Linked DNA regions of Homo sapiens: region 1 is linked to region 2. A link means that fine-mapping ties the variant in region 2 to the plasma level of a protein whose gene starts in the linked region. Region 2 holds a variant in brackets. A gene starts in the other region. All regions are shown on their forward strands.

Region 1 (10,037 bases), not on the chromosome of region 2:
CCCAAATGTGGGACACAGAAGTGACCCAAGCCGGACCCTGACTTCAAGGTGCAAGGGCAAGTGACAAGAATATGCATCCTAGATGTGGGGTTTTATTGAGCACGTACCATGTGCTAAGCTGTGTAATAAATCCTTCTACATCTCTTACTCAGTGCCGGGAGCAGTTAAGAGTGATTGGTACTGGCCGGGCGCAGTGGCTCACGCCTGTAATCCCAGCACTTTGGGAGGCCAAGGCGGGCGGATCAGGAGGTTATGAGATCGATCGAGACCATCCTGGCTAACACGGTGAAACCCCGTCTCTACAAATACAAAAAAAATTAGCTGGGCGTGGTGGCGGGCACCTGTAGTCCCAGCTACTCCAGAGGCTGAGGCAGGAGAACGGCGTGAACCTGGGAGGCGAAGCTTGCAGTGAGCCGAGATCGCGCCACTGCACTCCAGCCTGGGAGATGGAGCAAGACTCCGTCAAGAAAAAAAAAAAAAAAAAAAGAGTGATCAGTACCTCTCTCATCTCCACTTTATAGACAAGGGAACCAGAACACAGAGAGGTTATGTGACTTCTCCCAGGGCTCACAGCAGTAAGTAGCAGGAGGTAGAAGTTCAACCCAGGCCTGTGTGGACAGCGTTGAACCATCAGCCACATGAGAATGACATCAGCCAAGGTGGCAAGCCCTGAATCCCAGAGGAATTCCTTAACAGGCCTGAAAGTAGCAGTGGCTGGGTCTGCTGGTGGGAGTTGGAGGGAACTTAAGGGTCCCTCATGGGGGATGGGATGAAGTCACACTGGGGAAACCAAGGCAGCAGTCAGGAGCCACTCACTAGGAAGGGGCTGCCAGACAGATCTGAAAAATATAGAACTCAGTGGAAAAGAGGAAAAATGGAAGGAGGCTGTAGCACCCACCACCTACCTATATTAAAAACTCACAAAGGCGCAGGACTCAGGAGCCCACTCTCTGGCTCCAGTCTGTAGTCAAATGCCTGCTAGCTGTGAGACCTGGAGCCAGTTCCTTTAGCTTTCTGTGCCTTGATTTCCTCAAATATAAGGAGGACGTGGTTTGAGCACCTATCTCAAAGGTGCTTAGCACATAGTATGTACTCCATATGTGATTATTGAATGAACAACCTCACAGTGTTTACAAGGACACGTGCAGACAAATCATCCAAGTTCAGGGATGCAGATCCTGTTGTCAGTGGGGAGCAGAGGAGAGGCATGGGGAATTAGGATCAAGGGAGAACATTGGTAAATTAAGTTTAGAGGGGACCCTGTTCAGAGAGGGACCCTGTTCAGAGAGGGACCCTGTGTAGCCTTGGCAGCATGCCATGAACCCTCTGCAGCACCGGTACCAATAAATCACCATTGACAATGAAAATAAGTCACCCTGTGTGATGCCTATGGGCCCGACTCCTGGAGAAAAGGCAGAAGATCACCCCCAGGACCTGCAACCTGCACACTCTTACCTGGGCTCAGCCAGGATGACGGCCACCTCCGTCTTTCATTTACGCCTTGATGCTCCCTCCATAAGTGGTTCCTGGAGACCTGAAATGGGCTTCATCTTCCTCTCAGCACCTTGAGGGAGCAGAGTTTGGCTCTTGAGGAGCATGTGTGGACACATTTGTCTTCTCCTCCAAGTATTTCCTCCTTCCTCCCTTCATTCTTCAACCCATACATCCCTTCACCACCTCACTCATCTACTTCTTCATTGGTTCATTTGGTCATTCACTAAAAAATATGTCTCAAGTACCCTCTGCATGCCAGGCTCTGTGCTGATGCTGTGGACACAGTATAGATAAGAAGATGTGGGCCTGGTCTCACCCTTGGACCTCAAAATCTATGTGGGAAATGATCAATACTCAATAAACAAACAATGGCACACAGGGCTAGAACCATGAAGGAAGAAAGTGGGTGACTGAGCTACAGACCAGCCCGGAGGGCCTATTTAGACGAAGTGATTAGGACAGGGGGACATCCTTGCGGAAGACTGTCCCTGGAAGTCCTGGGAAATGGGACATTCCAAACAGTGGTATGATCTCCCCATACTTGAGTGCCTCCATCCCTCTGCCCATCCGTCCATCATCTACTGAATTCATTCATTCCTTACTTATTCATTTATTTGTTCAACACATGAGGAAGCTGGCTCTACTTGGGGAAAAAAATTGTTTGAAGCTGCACAGATCTGTGTTCAGATCACAATTTTGCCATGTACTAGCCGAATGGCAGGGAAATGTTACTTATCTCTCCATGCCTCCATTTCCTCATCTGTCGAATGGGGATAATAATGTCTAATGGGAGACTGGTTGTGAGAATGAATTGAGATGAGGATTTGGTGAGATGGTGTCACCTGGAACACAGCAACTATTGTTCTGGTCCACTGGCCAGACACTTAGTGTTTGCCCGGCTCTTGTGGGGATGGACACACAACAACCCAATCGTAGCAGCCTAGGCTGCGGCCCATACTGGCTCCTCTAATCAGGAAAGTGGGGACATACCAATTATCCCCTTTTGGCCTCCTGAGGACCCTATCTGGTAGACACTAACATCATTTCTTTAAACAAGCAAAACTGAGGCACAGAGAGGTTGTTGATTGTCCGAGGCCCCCAGTAAATGGAAGAGCTGGGGGACACCTTGGCATTCTGCCTCCAAATCTACCATCCTGGCCAGGTCACTGGGCCGTTTGTTTTCAGTTTCACTGACATTGAAGAATGGCAGGTGCCCATGAGGCTCACCGGGTCATGTGAGGTTTCACCCACAGGTGGAATGGTCAGCACTTTGATCATGTTTTGGGGTGCCTGCTTCAATTGCTCGAGACAATTGGATTTCCTAAAAATGATGGTGGAGTTCAATGGCTTCCAGCTCTGCAGGCTCTTGTTACACTTAACATTGAGAGGCTTTGGCAGGTCAAGCTGGCTTGGAAATGTCTGGTCCTGACTCTGTGCCTTGTCTGAGGTTAAGAGACTTTAGTTTCAGCCTCAGATCTACTACTCATACGTGTGCTCTGAAACCATCTAGCATCTCTGAGATGTGTTCCACCTATTTCATAACACTGTCTGCCTTGTAGTCATGAGATGCTCTACAGCACAGAGCCCGTTCATACTTAGTGTTCATCAAAAGCCAAGTGAGCCTAGATTGGCCCCTAACACCTTGGGTTATTTATTAATGACACCTGTCAACAATGCTGGCCTCCTAGGATTTATTTTTTGCTTTGTTTGTTTGCTTGTTTTGTTTTGTTTTTTGAGACAGTCTTGCTCTGTCACCCAGGTTGCAGTGCAGTGGCGCGATCTCGGCTCACTGCAACCTCTGCCTCCAGGGTTCACGCCATTCTCCTGCCTCAGCCTCCCGAGTACCTGGGACTACAGGTGCCCGCCACCATGCCTGGCTAATTTTTTATATTTTTAGTAGAGACGGGGTTTCACTGTGTTAGCCAGGGTGGTCTCGATCTCCTGACCTTGTGATCTGCCCGCCTCGGCCTCCCAGAGTGCTGGGATTACAGGTGTGAGCCACCGTGCCCAGCCTGGGATTTGTTTTTAAGCATCAATAAATTAATGAGAAGAAAATGACTGACATTTATTGGGCAGTCCTTACATGCCCCCCACATACCCTGCCCTTTAATTTTACATATATGATTTTAGTAATCCTCATGTATCAATTAGTATACAACTTGACTCCAACAAAAGAAAATTCAGACTAACTACAGTTTAAACAATAAAATATTAAATTATTTCATGTAATGAGAAGTCTGAATGGTGGCTCCAACAACAACATGAAGTCCCAACGACTCAGACCTTTTTTTTGCTTCCACTCTGCCATCCTCAATTTGTTGACTTTTTATTCTCAGCCTCATATACCCAAAATGGCTGCTGCAGCTCCAACCATCACATTTGCACACAAGGAAAGAAAAGAATGAGTAGATGGTCATTCTCTTCCTGAGGAAGGGAATCTTTTCTAGAAGACCCTAGCAGGTTTCCCTTATGTCTCATTGGCCGGAATTGGATCAGAGGCACATCCCCAGGTCAGTAAATGGAGAAATCATGAGCACCATCTCTTCTGGGGTCATGTCTATAGGGATCATAAACCTCTTCCATGAACACAAGCCTGCTGCTACCTCCAAGCAGCCACACATGCTTCAGCATCCCTTGTTAATAAGCTACAGGAAAAGAGAAGAGAAGGAGTAACTGTCATTTAAACCTCAGTGTCGAGTATTCCTACTGAGACCTGGAGATGCTGAGAACTTGCCAAGGTGTGAGAGGAGTTGCAAGGAGGCCATTGTGGTTGGGCATGGTGCACGAAAGGGAGAGAGGAAGAAGTGTACAGGGAGCTGGCTGGCCCAGGGGCCACGCCAGGACTGGGGACTCTGTGCTGTGTGATGGGCAGGCTTTGGACAGTTGTATCCAGAAGATGATCTATACATGACGCTAGTTCAAGGATTGCTCTGAGATGTGTGGATGGTAGAAGGTGGGCAGGGAGGCTGGGTATCAGTCAGGAGGCTGTGGCAGCGGTCCCCATGGGGAGCACAGGGCTGGACTAGGACAGCCCATAGAAGACATCCCATCTCCTTTCTTGCCCAAGGAAGAGACTCAGTGGCAGCAGTGCAATAAGGGTACAGGCCAGGAAACCCAACCCCCCAGGGATAGCAAGCATCCAGAGACACGTGGGGACAGCTCCAGCACCAAACGGCTTCTGACCAATGAGCAGAGACGGCAAACAGCAAATGCGTTACCGTGGCTTTCACGTGTCATGAAGGTGATGCTGTAACCTGAGCCTCAGAGCTCATTTTATTTGTGAATTCCTATCATCTCTAGATGGGTGGACTGAAAGCCACCTCTTTCGCTTGCAGCTAGGTAGAGGGGAGTGCAAGAGGGCAAATGAAAACCAGAAGTAGGGTTGGGCGCAATGCCTCACGCCTGTAATCCCAGCACTTTGGGAGGCTGATGTGGGCGGATTACCTGAGGTCAGGAGTTTGAGACCAGCCTGGCCAACATGGTGAAACCTCGTCTCTACTAAAAATACAAAAATCAGCTGGGTGTGGTGGCACATGCCTGTAATCTCAGCTATTCAGGAGGCTGAGGCAGGAGAATTGCTTGAGCCTGGGAGACAGAGGTTGCAGTGAGCAGAGATCGCGCCACTGCACTCCAGCCTGGCCGACAGAGCGAGACTCTGTCTCAAAAAAAAAAAAAAAAAAAAAAAAAAAGAAAAGAAAAGAAAAAGAAAAAGAAAAGGAAAAAGAAAACCAGAAGTAGGAGCAGCCTGAAGAAATGACAGGGAGTTGATTTCCCACTGGGAGCCCTCTCAAAGCCCACACACCCGCCTGCCTGGGGTAACAGTATCTCCTCGGACATCCTGCACCCTCCCATGCTCCCCCCTCCCTACAGTAGTGAAAGACCTAGGCAGGATGACCCCAGCTCCTCTGTGAGAATTTCACACCCTAGTGTGAAGTCATAGCCTTGTAACTTTCCCTTTAAGAACTGTCAGAGCTGGGGAGGCTGGCCAAGCTCAGGCTGGAGGTGGGGACAGAGGGAAGAAAGAAAAAAAAAAAAGAGAGAGAGGCAGGAAAAGTTTTTTCAGAGGAAAATGCAGGGTTTGTCCTTCACCCTGACGTCAGATCTTGCTTTAATAAAACCCCCCAAGGGCTGCGGAAGAGGCATATCTGGTGCTCCTGATGGGCCGGCCAGTCTGGGCCCAGCTCCCCCGAGAGGTGGTCGGATCCTCTGGGCTGCTCGGTCGATGCCTGTGCCACTGACGTCCAGGCATGAGGTGGTTCCTGCCCTGGACGCTGGCAGCAGTGACAGCAGCAGCCGCCAGCACCGTCCTGGCCACGGTGAGTCCTGCCTGGAGGGGCTCAGAGGGAGACCCAGCTCCCTTCTCTACTGGGTCCTGCTACATGGGGGCTGGTGGGCAGGATGAAAAGGGCCAGGAAGGTTTGGGGCTGGAAGGTGGCCACTTACAGGGCAAGGACAGAGCCCAGGGTGAGGAGTCAGCTGCCCAGGTTGGCTGAAGCTGGCAGGGTGAGGAGGACGGTGCGACACTTGGGGAAACAAACTGCACAGGTCCAGCCTGCCCTCTCTCCCCACCTGAAACAGTGCAGAAAGAACGGGGCCCTCAGCAGAACTGGGAGTCAGGGGCCCGGGCTCCAGACCCGTCTTCGCCTAACCTGGCTGTGTGGCCTCGGGTGGGTCACTCACCCTCCAGGAGCAGCGTAAAGCGACGAAGTTGTTAGGTGACTTCTAGAGTCTCTGAGTTTGAAAACTCCAAGACTCCAAGCATTGGAGATGCTGCGAAGATGGGAGATGGAAAAAGCCAAAAAAAATTGGAAAGAAAAATGCCAGCTTTCAACAAAAGCTCCTTATTGAGCAAACAGTGCTCAGGGTGATGTCTAACCCCAACTGCTGTCACCTCCGGTCTGCACAGCCCTCTGCAGTCTGCAGAGTGTCCATACTTGGGTCCTGCCTATGAAGCCTGCTGTTCCAGGGTGGGGGTGATGTGGGCACCCCAGAGTCTCTCTCTCTTCCACCTGCACCCCAGGGTACACCAAGGGGAAGGGACAAAGGTCTGCACCTCCAAAAGCCAGGGGAGTCACATATGTGACCGTGTAGAGCCAGCCTGCTAGGGCCAGGCATGGTGAGGAAAAGGCAGAGGCAGGCAGTGCAAGGAGGGCAGGAGGTGGGTACCTGGCAGCTTCTGAGCCCCAGATTCCACAGCCCAGGGCAGGACCTGCTCCTGGCAGAACAGCCTAGAGACGGAGGGGTGATGGCAAAAGAGTGTTTATCCCCAAATGACACTGATGGCTTCCTTGGGGGTTAAGAAGCCCCCTTCACAGATAAGGAAACCGTGTGTTGGGGTTAAACCACTTGCCAGAATCAGACTCTAGGTCTGCTTCAGCCAGAACTGAGGCCGAGAGCCGACAGCAAACTGAGACCTGGGAAATAGGAATTCCTCTCAATGCCTCGGTGTGTGTAATGATGGCGGGGAGTGGGTCTGTTTCATCTTGGTTAAATCCTCACGCCTGGCATGGTGCCTGACTATAGTTGGTTCAGAACCACCTTACCAGAAAGTTATCAGCTCCATTTCACAAATGAAAGAAATGGAAAGTGAGAGCAAGTAAAGGACTTGCCCAGGAGCTCCTCATTAATAAGTGGCCAGGGCCCAAACTTAGATCTTCTGATGCCAATTTCTAACCATTCCTACTTAGGGGAAGCTGACTGTGTCCTACAGGAGTGCCCAGAAGGAGCTAAGTCGCTGTTTATTTCGGCTCTGGGTATGGCTGCGCCTTTATTTGGGTATAGCTTTGCAGGTTGCTATGTCTGGGAGGGCAGGGAGAGGATGGAGAAAAGGTGAGCGTTTGAGAGAAGCCAAAGTCTGAGTGGGCAGAGGAGGCGAGAGGTTTAAGCATGAGTCCAAGTACTCTGGAGCCCCAGTCAGCTCCCAGAACAGCCGGTGCTGAGGAGGAGTGAAGGACAGAGCCGAGGACTCAGCCAGAGGAGACCAGCAAAGGAGCAGAGCGTGTGGAGGGACCCAGGGAGCAGGTTGGAGGGAAGGCTCCCGGGACCAGCACAAGGTACCTCTCTTCTAGGCAGCCCCTGCCTGGGGAACCCAGACCACCCACCCCATGCTTGTTTCATGATTTAGATGCTTCTGGGACAGAGGTGTGCACGGCACTGGAGTTCTCAGGATGTCCTGAAAGCCCCGCCCCCTGTGTGGGCTGTGAGACTGATAGAAACGAGCTGGACTCCATTTGGAAACCAGCCTTGTTTCATAGCCAAATTCCATACATGGTCATCCTCCCGAATTAATATGCAAAGGGAGCACATGTCCAACCAGGGTCTCAGTGAGATCTTAATGGAAAAAATTGTTGTAAATGTTCATATTGAAGAAAATGCATGTGAGAATTGCCAAGAAAACTTTGAGGAAGTAGAGTTACAAGGGGGACTTCTCTGGGAGATATGAAAGCACTCTGTAAAGATTCTGCAGTGGAAGGAGGAAGATGGCAGCCCAGAAGGAGATCAGCCAAGGAGGAAGGCACTGGAGTGATCTCAGGAACAGCCGAGTGTATTTGGGAATTTAATCTGTGCTAAAGGTGTATTGCAAATATGACTTATGCTTTCATCTCTTTATTCTTTTCTTCTGCATTTGTTGAGCATGTCCGCCATGTGCTAAGAGAAAGGGACTCCATTTAATGTGCATTAGCAAGCACTGAGCCAACACATGTATAAGACCAACCTCAGTTCACCCAACAAACATTTATTAGGCACATTCTACAATTCCCATAACAATATTATTTAGCAAGTGCAATTATCCTCCTTAACAGATATGAAAACTGAGACTCGGAGAGGTTAAGTAATTTGTCAAAGGTCACACAGCTGGTAATCAGGGAAGCTGACATTTGAACCTTGGTCCAGCTCTTGGTAATGTAGCCTCCTGCCTCCCTGGTCCAAGGGCAGAAACCAGGGGCATGTAGTCCCTGCCCGACAGAGTTTACTGGCTAGTGGGGCAGGTGACAGGGGTAACGTCAGCCAGAGTAGAGGGGCTGGAATCAGGCTCTGCCACTGGCTGTGTCGGCCGCACTAAGTCCCGTTGCACCTCAGACCTCACTTTCCTCGTTTGTTAATTGGGACTAACTGTCTCACCACACCAAGCTCCCTGCTGCTGAACGTGAAAATGTGCCTGAGGAAAACCTCTCAGAAGTGTGTAATTCAGCAAACGAAAGCTGAGTGATAAAATCCTGGGCAAGCATTAGGCCTGTGGTGGTCTATGTATAGGTCTACAGGTAAAACCCACATCCTCCCTCCTGTATCAGTGCATGTGGGATGTGCATAGCTGCACTGTGTGTGTGTGGGGTGGGGTGTGTTTGTGAGAGGGTGTGTGGGGGTATGCGTATGGTGTGTATGTGGGGTGTGTCTGGTGTGTGTGTGTGGTGTGTGTGTGTATGTGTGTGCCTGTGTGGTGTGTGTGGGGGGGTGGTGGTGTGTGGGGGTGTGTGTGTGGGGTGTGTGTGTGGTGTGTGGGGGTGTGTGTGGATTTGTGTGGTGTGTGTGTGGTATGTGTGTGTGGTGTGTGTGTGGTATGTGTGTGGGGTGTGTGTGTGTGTGGTGGGGGGTGTGGTGTGTGTGGAACATGAGTGTGGTGTGTGTGGGGGTGTGTGTGGTGTGTATGTGGTGTGTGTGGGGGGGTGGTGGTATGGAGGGGTGTGTGGGGTGTGTGGGGTGTGTGTGTGTGGGTTTGTGTAGTGTGTGTGGGGTGTGTGGGGTGTGTGCGTGTGTGCGTGTGTGGTGGGGGATGTGGTGTGTGTGTGGTGTGTGTGTGGAGGGTGTGTGTGGTGTGTGTGGGGATGTGTGTAGTGTGTGTGTGGTGTGTTTGTGGGGTATGTGCCTGGGGTGTGTGGGGGGGATGTGTGGTGTGTGTGTGTGGTGTTTATTGTGTGTGGTGTGTGTGGTACGTGTGTGTGTGGTGTGTGGTGTGTGTGTTGAGTGTGTTTGTGGTGTGTTTTTGTGTGTGTATGTGTGTGGTGTGTGTACTGAGTGTGTATATGGTGTGTTTGTGTGTGTGGTGTGTGTGTGGTGTCTGTGTATGTGTGTGGTGTGTGTGTTGAGTGTGTATGTGGTTTGTGTGTGTGTTGTGTGTGTGGTGTGTGGTATGCGTGTGTATGCATGGTGTGTATGTGTGTGGTGTGTATTATGTATGTAGTGTGCTTGTGTGTGTGTGGTGTGCGTGGTGCTTGTGCATGGTGTGTGTATGGTGTGAGCATGTTTGTGGTGTGTGTGTGTTGAGTGTGTATGTGGTGTGTTTGTGTATGTGGTGTGTGTGTGGTGTGTGTATGGTGTGTGTATGTGTGTGGTGTGTGTCTGTTGAGTGTATATGTGGTGTGTTTTTGTAGTGTGTGGGTGGTGTGTGTGTGTTGAGTGTGTATGTGTTGTGTTTGCGTGTGTGGTGTGTGTGTGTGTGAACCTTGTGTTTGGGTGTGAGATACAAACTCATTCTCTGCTTCCAGAAGCAACTGCAGAATAATGTGGGTCAAGTGTATGGCAAAATATCCCCTTTAGAAAACAGA
Region 2 (10,037 bases):
CAAGCGCCCCGGACAGTCCCGGTTCCTGCCCCCGCCTCTCCCTCCACACCTCCCCTCAAGCTGAGGGAGCCGGCTCTGGCCTTGGCCAGCCCGGAAAGGGGCTCCCACAGTGCAGCAGTGGGCTGAAGGGCTCCTCAAGTGTGGCCAGAGTGGGCGCCAAGGCCTAGGAGGCGCCGAGAGCAAGCGAGGGCTGCCAGCACGCTGTCACCTCTCAGGACTACAGGTGCACCACCATGCCTGGCTAATTTTTATTTCCTTTCTGATGTTTTAATTTAATTTATGATGTTGACCTAAGAGATGGAAACCAGGGCTGCTCTGGCAAAGACAGGGCTTATAGTTTCCCTCAATGCCAGAAGAGAAGGGAAAAATTTAAAACCATATCTTCTTTCCCTGTTCAAATCACTTCTCACACACATATTCCTTGTATTCTCAGTGAAACCACAAACTTGACCTTCTTGGATCTTTCTTCTTGATGGTTGGTCTATTTATAACATAGGAATGTGTGGACTTACTGACTACATTTCTAGTTAGGCAACCCCAAATTCTGCATTTCCCAACAAGCTAATGAACAAGGCCACCTCAGTGAAGATGGGGTTTCCTGGGTCTCACCCCAACTGATTCCCTCCATCATCTTAAAGCAAGTCACTCAATACCAGGCCTCAGCTTCCTCAACTACAAAAGGAAGGCAATGAACTATGTACTCAATAGAACTACAATCTTTCTACCAGTTGAAATACTTATTTTCTTTTTTTTTTTTTTTTGAGAGGCAAAATCAATTACTTCCTTTTCAATTGTCCTCTGGTGCTTTATTCCAATTTCTATTATATTTAACACTATCCTATTGCATTACAATTAGTTGTGTGTCTGCCTCTTTTCCTCATAAATTACAGGTTCCATAAAGACAGGCGTTGTATTAAATTTACCCTCGTATTCACAGCATTTAGTATTATGCTTGGCACTGTATTAGGCTCTAAATACATATCTATTGAATGAATAAATATGTAAGCTACTTTAAAAATGCCCATTCAGGCTGGATGCGGTGGCTCATGCCTGTAATCCCAGCACTTTGGGAGGCTGAGGTGGGCATATCACGAGGTCAGGAGATCGAGACCATCCTGGCTAACACGACGAAACCTCGTCTCTACTAAAAATACAAAAAATTAGCTGGGCGTGGTGGCGGGCACCTGTAGTCCCAGCTACTCGGGAGGCTTAGGCAGGAGAATGGCGTAAAACCCAGGAGGCAGAGCTTGCAGTGAGCCGAAATCGCGCCACTGCACTCCAGCCTGGGCGACAGAGCAAGACGCTATCTAAGAAAAAAAAATGCCCATTCAGAAGTTCCAATTAGTCATTTACATATTCCTTTCCTTTCCCCCCCAAAAAAGAAAAACCAAAACACTCTATCTCAATTCTAAAATCGGGGCAAGATTTGAAAATTGATTAAATCAAAGGCAGTTTGGTTTTAAGATGAATTGGAGTAAATCCTACACTTAAGAAGGAATCTTCCAGCACTTTGGAAGGCTGAGGTGGGAGGATTGCTTGAGGCCAGGAGCTCAAGACCAGCCTTGGACACCATAGCGAGACCCTGTCTGAAAAAAAACAAAAAAAACTCTTTCCTTCTTCCTCACCTCCATCTCCCACTTCCTTCTGAGTTTATTGTCTAGAGTTAGTCATGCCTTAGAACATGCCCATGAACAATCTCCCCACATTTTCCACCCTAACTCCCATCCCATTAGAAAATCAATACGTATTTCACAGGTCGCGGTGGCTCACGCCTGTAATCCCAGAACTTTGGGAGGCTGAGGCAGGCGGATCATCTGAGGTCAAGAGTTCGAGACTAGCCTGGCCAAAATGGTGAAACCCGTCTCTACTAAAAATACAAAAAAATTAGCTGGGCGTGGTGGCATGCGCCTGTATTCCCAGCTACTCAGGAGGCTGAGGCAGGAGAATCGCTTGAATCCGGGAGGCGGAGGTTGCAGTGAGACGAGATCACCCCACTGCACTCAAGCCTGGGCGACAGAGCGAGACTGTCTGAAAAAACGAACAAACAAAAACACGGGACCAACAATGCTCATTCTAGAGTTTGACATTACCTAGATCAGACTTGAAGCAGCTTGGTTACGAATCATTTGAGAGATCCCGAAACGTTCACAGAGCTGGAAGTATATTTTCAGTAGGGAAGAAGACATTCTTCAGATAGTATCATCAAGTGTACAAAATTTTTAAAAGATTTATTTACATATATCAAAGCATCACATTGTACCCCATAAATGTATGCAATTATGATTTGTCAATTAAAAATAGTATTGATAAAAAATGTAATGATGTTATTTGTAGACATGTAACATTTGAAAATAAATATAATTGTACTGATTTAGAGTGAACTAAGGAAATTTCATTTAAATGGCAAAGGAACATATGGTGACAGAGTAATATTACTAAAAATACTCACTAGAATTTTCCCTTAATATCTTTCCCTGATTTATGTGACATAAACAAACTACATAATGGTGTGAGGGACTATAAAGGTTTTATTGCCACTTGTTTGGTATTGCCTGCGTAACTCACTCTGAGTGCCAGTTGTGGGTATCTCAAACTAAGTGTCATAAAACATTTATAGCATGCCACTCCATTTCCTATACTTTTCATAGAGACAAAACTTTAGCGCTCACAAAAGTACTTATAAATATAATAGCTAGTTGTGAAAACTTTTTAATTTAGATCCCACATTTCCAGTTTGCAGGAAGAAAAATAAATGTAATGAAGATTTACGTTACTTCTCTGCATGAACTCAGATTAGTTCGCAAATTCCTTTTCAAAGAAAAACCACTTTTCAAAGATATCCTCAGTAAATGCATTTTGTAATTAACATAAAATTGGCAAAGTCGCTGTGCCTACACGTTTGAATTCATGTGTAAATAACGACTACTCACTTCCTTGCTTCCCCACCCGGGGACCAGGCTCCAAGCATCACAGGTGCAGAAAGACTTGCAAAAAGGAATGAATAGGAACAAAAGGATGTAGGCGCCAGGAGGAAAACAGGATCTTCCAGAACAAAATTAATCTCGCAAGGCATAGCAGATCCAACACCAGATTATTACCAAAGTTTAAACTTTTTCAATGGTCATCAGAGATAGCGTATCAAGTTTATTAGGTCTTTCACTACGGCTGATTTGCTTAAACCTTTATGTTATGCTTATCTTGAGGGATAGATTTCTGTGCTAAGCACATAATAGGTGTTAAACCAATATTGATTTTTAAAAGGAGGTGGTCATTAAATAGAAATTTTACTGTTATTTTAACCTTTAAATTTATGGCCCAAGGGCCAAACGATGATTTGTACGATTCCCTAGTTTCAATACTTGTGAGTTATTACAAGAAATACAACTCTGCTATGCAACAGAAGAACCGCAAATAGTCATTAAATTACCGCACACCAAGCAGCTTGGAGATCAGATAGGAAATGTTTGGGGAGAGAGTCCTGCTGAAGTTCCAAGTCTCAAACAAAACCCCTCAACATCAGAGTGCATGGTGAGTTTAAATTTATTGTAATTAAAGTCATCCAGATGGTAGTTGGATTAATCAATGAAGAGGTGGTTATCTATCTTGGGATAGAAGATTCTGAAACCCAGAGCGAGAAAAATCCCCAAGGTGGGGGTGGGGACAGTTAATAAGAGCCCTTGGGAAAGGCCCTTTCAGCGAGGATTGGAAAATAATACGTTTGAATTTGAATCTCTTTGAATATAAATCTCCCCTAACAGCAGGAAAAGGGTCCTCTAGCCCAGCAAGCTTTGGGGAGGGAGTAAGCGGAACTGCAAAAGAGCTCGCTCAGCTGTTTCTGGATTGGGGCGCAGAGAAAGAAATCGCGATCAGGGAACTGAGTACTGGAGTCCCTCAAAATAACCCGAAGGGTCAAATAGTGAGCTCCAAGCAAAGCGTTGACCCGGCTACCCCTGAGCAGCGCCCTACGCTGGGTTCCACTCCACTTCCCCTCCCCCGCGCGGGGCGATAGCCAGGCGCGGTCCCTTCCCACGCGGGCCGCGGCGAGTGCGGACAGCTCCCTTCCGGGCTGCGGAAGGCGGGAAGTCTGCGGTTCGCGGGCTCCGGCTGGCGGGCGCCCCTCGGAGTCCCTGAAGTCGGCCGGGCCCCGCAGGACCCGCGCCTTCTCGGCCCCAACTGTCCCTCGCGAAGCGTCCTGCGGTGGCGGAGGCCTCGCGGCCGCCCGCCAGCCCCGCGAGCGGCAAGCGCGGGGCTCAGAGGGGAGGCGGGGCAAGGCCGCGGGGCGGAGGGGGGCGGGAGGTGCATCCTGGGAAATCCACCAACATGGGGCGCAGC[G/GGCCGCC]GCCGCCGCCGCCGCCGCCGTCGCCGCGAGTCCCGGCCGCGGGTGCCTCCGCTTCCCTGACGCCCAGCTGGGGCCTCGCCGCCCGCCGCGGCCCGGGTCTTTGCGGCCCAGACTCGCCAGCGCGCCCTTCTCCCGCCTGCTCGCCGGGGCCATGTGAGGGGGCAGCTCCCTCCACCGCCGCCGCCCCCTCTTCCTCCCCCGCCCCCTCTCCCTGCCCGCCCCCGTCACACGGAGCCCTGGAGGATCCCCCGCTGCTGCCCGCCCTCCCTACGCCACCCCCACGATGGACAGGAACTACGCGACCTCGGGCTTCACCGAGCCGCCGCCGCCGCCGCCGCCCGCGCCCCCCGCCGCCCCCGTCCCCGCCAGCGCCGCTGCGCAGCCCCCCGCCCCAGCCTGGGCGTACGAACCCCGAGCCGCCGCCGCCGCCGCCAGCAGCAGCTGCAGCAGTGGCAGCTGCAGTAGCGGCAGCAGCCCCAGCCTCAAGGCCAGGTAGGGAGGGTGGGCGGCGGGGTCGCGGTGGACCAGGAAAGGCCGGGGATGCGTTTGGGGCCTTCGCTCGGTTGCAGCGCCGCCCAGAGGTCTGGGCCGGGCGGGGAGCCCTCCGCTCGCCCTCGGCCAGCTCGGGGGAGGCGGCTGATGACTCCTACGGGGTGGTCGCGGGTAGGTGGGGGCGCCCGGTGCAGGATTCGCGCCTGGGGACGGCGGGTGAAGGAATAGCTGGGCGGGAGTCGTGGGGCTCCGTCACCTCTTGGGTCCTGGGCTCTCACATGGTGAAGTTTGGGCTCGTGGCTGAACTCGGGATCTGTGAGACCCAGGATTGGCGCCGGGGGTCCGAAGGGGGCGCCGGAGAGTTTGGGGCAGTGGCGATCCATTGTATTGGAACCTGGGTGGCCGACAATGCGGTCTTGGGGACTCCGGCGTGTGAGGGTTGCGGAGGCGGGAGAGGAAGAGTCGCGGAACCGCGTCCCGGAGACACTGGGGGGCCCGGGAGGGCTGGGCTACGGGAGAATCCCCGGGGCGCAGGGCAGAAGAGGGGGCCCGGCAGGGCGCGAACGCGGCTCCAGGGCCGGGTGACATATGTTTGCGCTGGTGGCCAAGATTTAGGCGATTTTTCTTCCACGCGTTCAAAGTTGCTCTTAGGTTTCCTCCCCTTTTAACAACAGCAGGAAGTAAGGAATCTTTCTTTGCCTTCTATGCCTCGGGGTGACTGAGAGTTGGGAAGAAATGGGGCGGGGGTTGGGGTGGGGGTAGTGAAGGCCGTAAAGGTTGAAGAACCAAAGCATGCTTCTCCATCTCGGCCTTTAAGGTCCGGGTGCATTATGTAGCGTGGGGTTCAAGAGTTCATCTTGCATGACCAAGGGAATCTAAAATTTTGACTCCTACTTGATATTTAAGCTCGCGGGAAATGTGTAGTAGTGCCACACTGTGAAACGGTCCCATTTGAATGATAACTGGAAGGCGTGGTCTGGTTTGGAGAATTGGTGAGCGGGGTGTTTTAAAGCCACCTCTCCCGAACAATACAGAATCTGGTAGGTGCAGCTTCTGATTACATGGACCAGGGAATCCTGGGTTGCTAATGACTTCATCCTCAGCTACCAACAGGAAGCTTCGTGGCTTTATGATCTCATCAGATTTCTTCATTATTTTTCACGACAGAAGTGAACTTTTGTTTTAAGTTTATACATTACCGTGTTCCAGGTTATCTTCTTTGTTTTTACGAAAGTTCTACGTTCATGATTGAGCAAATAAGTGTGAAGGGTAGCTGGTCTTTGTCTTAGATTGTCCATTGGGACGATTGTGAAAGAATGAGAAAAATTTGCTTCAAGAATAGGAATATAAGCTTTCTCAGAAAATTTTAGGCCCTTTGTTTTCAAGACTTGGGAGTTAACAAAAATAATGTGATGTGCCAATTTGGAGCTAAGTAATTAAATGCTGAAACCTTTCAGAAATAGCCATAATTTTGTATTACATACAAGTAAGCCATTTTAAGGAGTTTCATGAAAGACGTTTGGCACTTCACCCATTATTTCTTGCTGATGGTAATTTGACTATCTTTTTCAAGTAGCTTTTTGCATTGACTAGGATAATTTACAAATGAAAATTACTTTCTCATCATTGAACAGCATGATAGGTATTTGTGCCGCATTTTTTATCTTTTAAATGAAAAATATTTATTAGGTAAATGGAACTGAAATACTACCTAGTTACTTCTTTTAGTAGAATACTTCTGAGGCAAGAAACTAAAATCTACTTGTCATATTTTCCAAATGTTATTTATCAGAGTAACACGAAATGACTTCCCAAACACACTTGAAAACAGTAAGTAGATTCACTTGGCACACATAATCTAAAGGAGATTTATTTTCTGTTTACTAGAAGTTATTGAATCTTAAATATTACCCCTCATGCCCTCTCCCCCTGCTTTTTTAAAAAATAAGCGGTGGGGGGAATCAGCTAAAATACAGCATAGAAAATGCAGGTTTACCCCCCTCCCCCGCCAGCCTGCTTTGTTAACATCTTGTATTGGGATCAGGCCATCTGTACAGAGTTACACTTCTGAATTATACCTCATTTTATTCCTCAAACTGTGCAAATATTCCCTTTGATTTCAGTTATATCAAAAATGGCAAATCTGAAATATGCCTTGTAAGTCTAAATATTCTACACTTCAGAAGCTTATTTATATTTTTATACCATTTTAAAAAGCTTTTTCATAATGCACATATCAGTTGAATGTTTTTGTTCCCCTTTGTGGCAGTTTCTTGTGAAGGTGCAAATGAGTACTAGTTGTGATGATGTAATATGGATACTTATCCATAAAGAATTAGCCTGTCTGTCACCTTGTTTCCTGTAACCTATTCAGAAGCTGACAGATGGTAATGACATTCAGTTGTTGCCGACAGGGATCTAACATCCTACTTTATGCCTTCTTGGTCTTGAAATACATCATTTTCATCAGTTGATGGGAAGGTACATGATAAACAGCTTTTCATGAGTTTGAAACAATACTTTTTTGAATACAACAGCTCTGTTAGTTATTAGGTAGTTTTATTGTACTAACAGTGGAAAAATAGAGTGGGAAACTCCAGCATTATACCTTAAATGGGGCTTATAGAAAGATTTTTGAATATTTCTCAGAGTACTTGCTAGGTACTTGGAAAGTACAGGGATAAGGACTGGCCATATAAATCTTCATTTATTTATGCTAATTTCAGTTCGTTTTAGGAACTAAATGAATGAACATGTCCTTTGCTGAACACCACGCAGTTGGAAATACCTTTTGGGGTGCAGTTTTGGATGTTGTAAATACCTTTGCATAGCTTGGGAAATAAGAAGGTCATCAAGAGTCTGCAGATCCATTGCCGCATTCTGTACTTGATACTTATATCTTGGTCACAACAGGAAGAGGCAGGCTGTTTTATGGTGATAATCGATGTGTTCGTATTTGAATATGCACCAGAAAGTAAGGGAATGGAAATATTTTGTATTTAAATAGGTTTATTTATTTTATTTTATTTTATTTTTTGCGATGGAGTTTCGCTCTTGTTGCCCAGGCTGGAGTGCAACGGCGTGATCTCAGCTCTCTGCACCCTCTGCCTCACGGGTTCAAGCAGTTCTCCTGCCTCAGCCTCCTGAGTAGCTAACCACACCTGGCTAATTTTTGTATTTTTAGTAGAGATGGGGCTTCACCGCATTGGCCAGGCTGGTAATTTTTGTATTTTTAGTAGAGATGGGGTTTCACTACATTGGCCAGGCTGGTCTTGAACTCCTGACCTCAGGTGATCCGCCCATTTTGGCCTCCCAAAGTGCTGGGATTACAGGTGTGAGCCACCGTGCCTGGCCTGTTTTTTGCCTTTCTAACTTGAAATAACTTTTGGCACCAGTTTTTAGAATTCCTAATGCATACTTTTTTTTAGTATGAGGTATAATGAGTATGATAAATACTCCTCTGAAAAACCAAAGTAATGATTAGCTCTTCTAAAACCTGTCAGTTTCTATATGATGGACATTTGTTTGATACATTTCAAATCTAGAGTTTTCCTCAAGGTTTTTGGGAAAAGGCCTTATAGATCATAATTTGTAAGGCGTAAGAACAATCTCAAGTTAATGAAAGGTTATTTCAGACAAACTTCCACTGTTAGAGTTCAGAAAGTTTTTTCCCATGGAAACCGTGTTGTAAGTAATAGTAGCTGTCATTTACATCACTAGCAACTAATTTGTGCTAGCTGTTTTAAGTCACACGTACATTCATTTATCAAAATTCATTTATCATGAATAAATGAATACATACATTCATTTATCAAAATTCATTATAAAAATCCTTTGAGGTAGGCATTCTTTTTACCATCCTTTTATGGATGAGGAAACTGAGGGATAGAGACATGAAGTAATTTATACCTACAGCTACATAGCTAGTAAATAGTGGTGCTGTGATTGAAACCTGGGCATTGCAGATCTGGAGCCTATGTGATAACCAGTGTACTGCACTGCTTTATTGTAAGATAGTGGAATGCTGTAATCCACCTATATGTGAAATGAGTTTCTGTGAGTTGGCCTGGAAACCTAAGCATCATTAATATCCTTATTTAAGTGTTCTTTGTCACCGTTGACCATTACCTAGTTGAAATACATTCCTTTTCACTTCCATAGCACTGTACTTGCCTGGTTTTCCTCCTACTTTTCTGGCCCAACGCTTTTTCCTGTTCTTCACTGGTGTTTACTCCTCTTCTGTCTAATCTCTGCATGTTACTGTTTCCTCAGGGCTTGGGATTGATAAATTTCTTGTTCATTCCTTGCTTTCTCCTGCGGACTCACATCCACGTCCATGCTTTTAAATACTATCTCAGTGGAGATGCCCATATTTGAGCAGACTCTTCTCAGGACCTCAGACTCTTCTGAAAACCTGATCACATAACCAACTACCTCTTTGACCTTTTACTTGAGCTTAATGATATGCTTTCCCCACCCATCACACCTCTGCTTCTCTAGTGAGGCCCATCTCAGTAGTCATACCTCTGTCCACTTAGTTGCCCAGGCCAGATGGTGGGAGTTGTGTGTGCTCAGTCACTAAGACCTACTGTTTTGAATCTAATGTCTTGAAACTGTCTGCTTCTTTTGTATCCACTGCTCCAGCTGGTCCAAGCCACCATTATTTTTCACTTGGACAACTGTGGTAGCTTCCTAACTTAGTCATCTTGGACCTTTTCTTTCCTCTCTTCAATTCATTCTTCTTATACCATCCAGAGTGATTTTTAAAAACACAGATCTACAAGTTTGCTCTTGGTCCTTTGCTTAAAGCCTTTCCATGGCTACTCCTACATATTAGGGTCACATTTTTAAACATCTGTAATATGGTCAGGCGTGATATCTCACGCCTGTAATCCCAGCACTTTGGGAGGCTGAGGTGGGAGTATTGCTTGAGCCCAAGAGTTTGAGACCAGCCTACGCAACGTGGTGAAACCCTATCTCTACAAAAAATAAATAGAAAAAATTAGCCGTGCATGGTGGCGTGCGCCTGTGGTCCCAGCTACTCTGGAGGCTGGGGTGGGAGGATGGCTTGAGCCTGGGAGGTGGAGGTTGCCGTGAGCTGTGATGGTGCCACTGCACTTCAGTGTGAGCGACAGAGTGAGAACCTGTCACACACACACACACACACACACACACACACACACACACACACACACATTGTAATGTGCTCTGTA

Direction of the effects. Alleles are on the strand shown, and positions count from the first base shown. The strength of an association depends on the size of the effect and on how common the allele is.
As copies of GGCCGCC replace G in region 2, the plasma level of the protein whose gene starts at base 5,636 in region 1 goes up (weak association).

The links. PIP is the chance, under the fine-mapping model, that this variant and not a neighbour inherited with it causes the effect. The UK Biobank Pharma Proteomics Project read protein levels with antibody pairs (Olink). The fine-mapping took linkage between variants from a reference panel, not from the people measured, so its PIPs are less certain.
Region 1: it holds the start of CCN4, and the variant in region 2 is fine-mapped to the plasma level of the CCN4 protein (UK Biobank, PIP 0.98).

Annotation. Positions count from the first base shown.
Region 1 is chr8:133,185,404-133,195,440 of GRCh38, forward strand. It overlaps CCN4 (cellular communication network factor 4), which reads left to right and starts at 5,636. Exons shown (of 5, transcript NM_003882.4): 1 at 5,636-5,810. The coding sequence starts at 5,742. RefSeq lists a silencer at 6,508-6,755.
Region 2 is chr11:32,888,511-32,898,547 of GRCh38, forward strand. It overlaps QSER1 (glutamine and serine rich 1), which reads left to right and starts at 4,301. Exons shown (of 13, transcript NM_001076786.3): 1 at 4,301-4,824. The coding sequence starts at 4,616. RefSeq lists an enhancer at 2,652-3,226 and silencers at 3,974-4,593, 4,674-5,073. The variant G/GGCCGCC (reference allele first, on the strand shown) is at 4,333.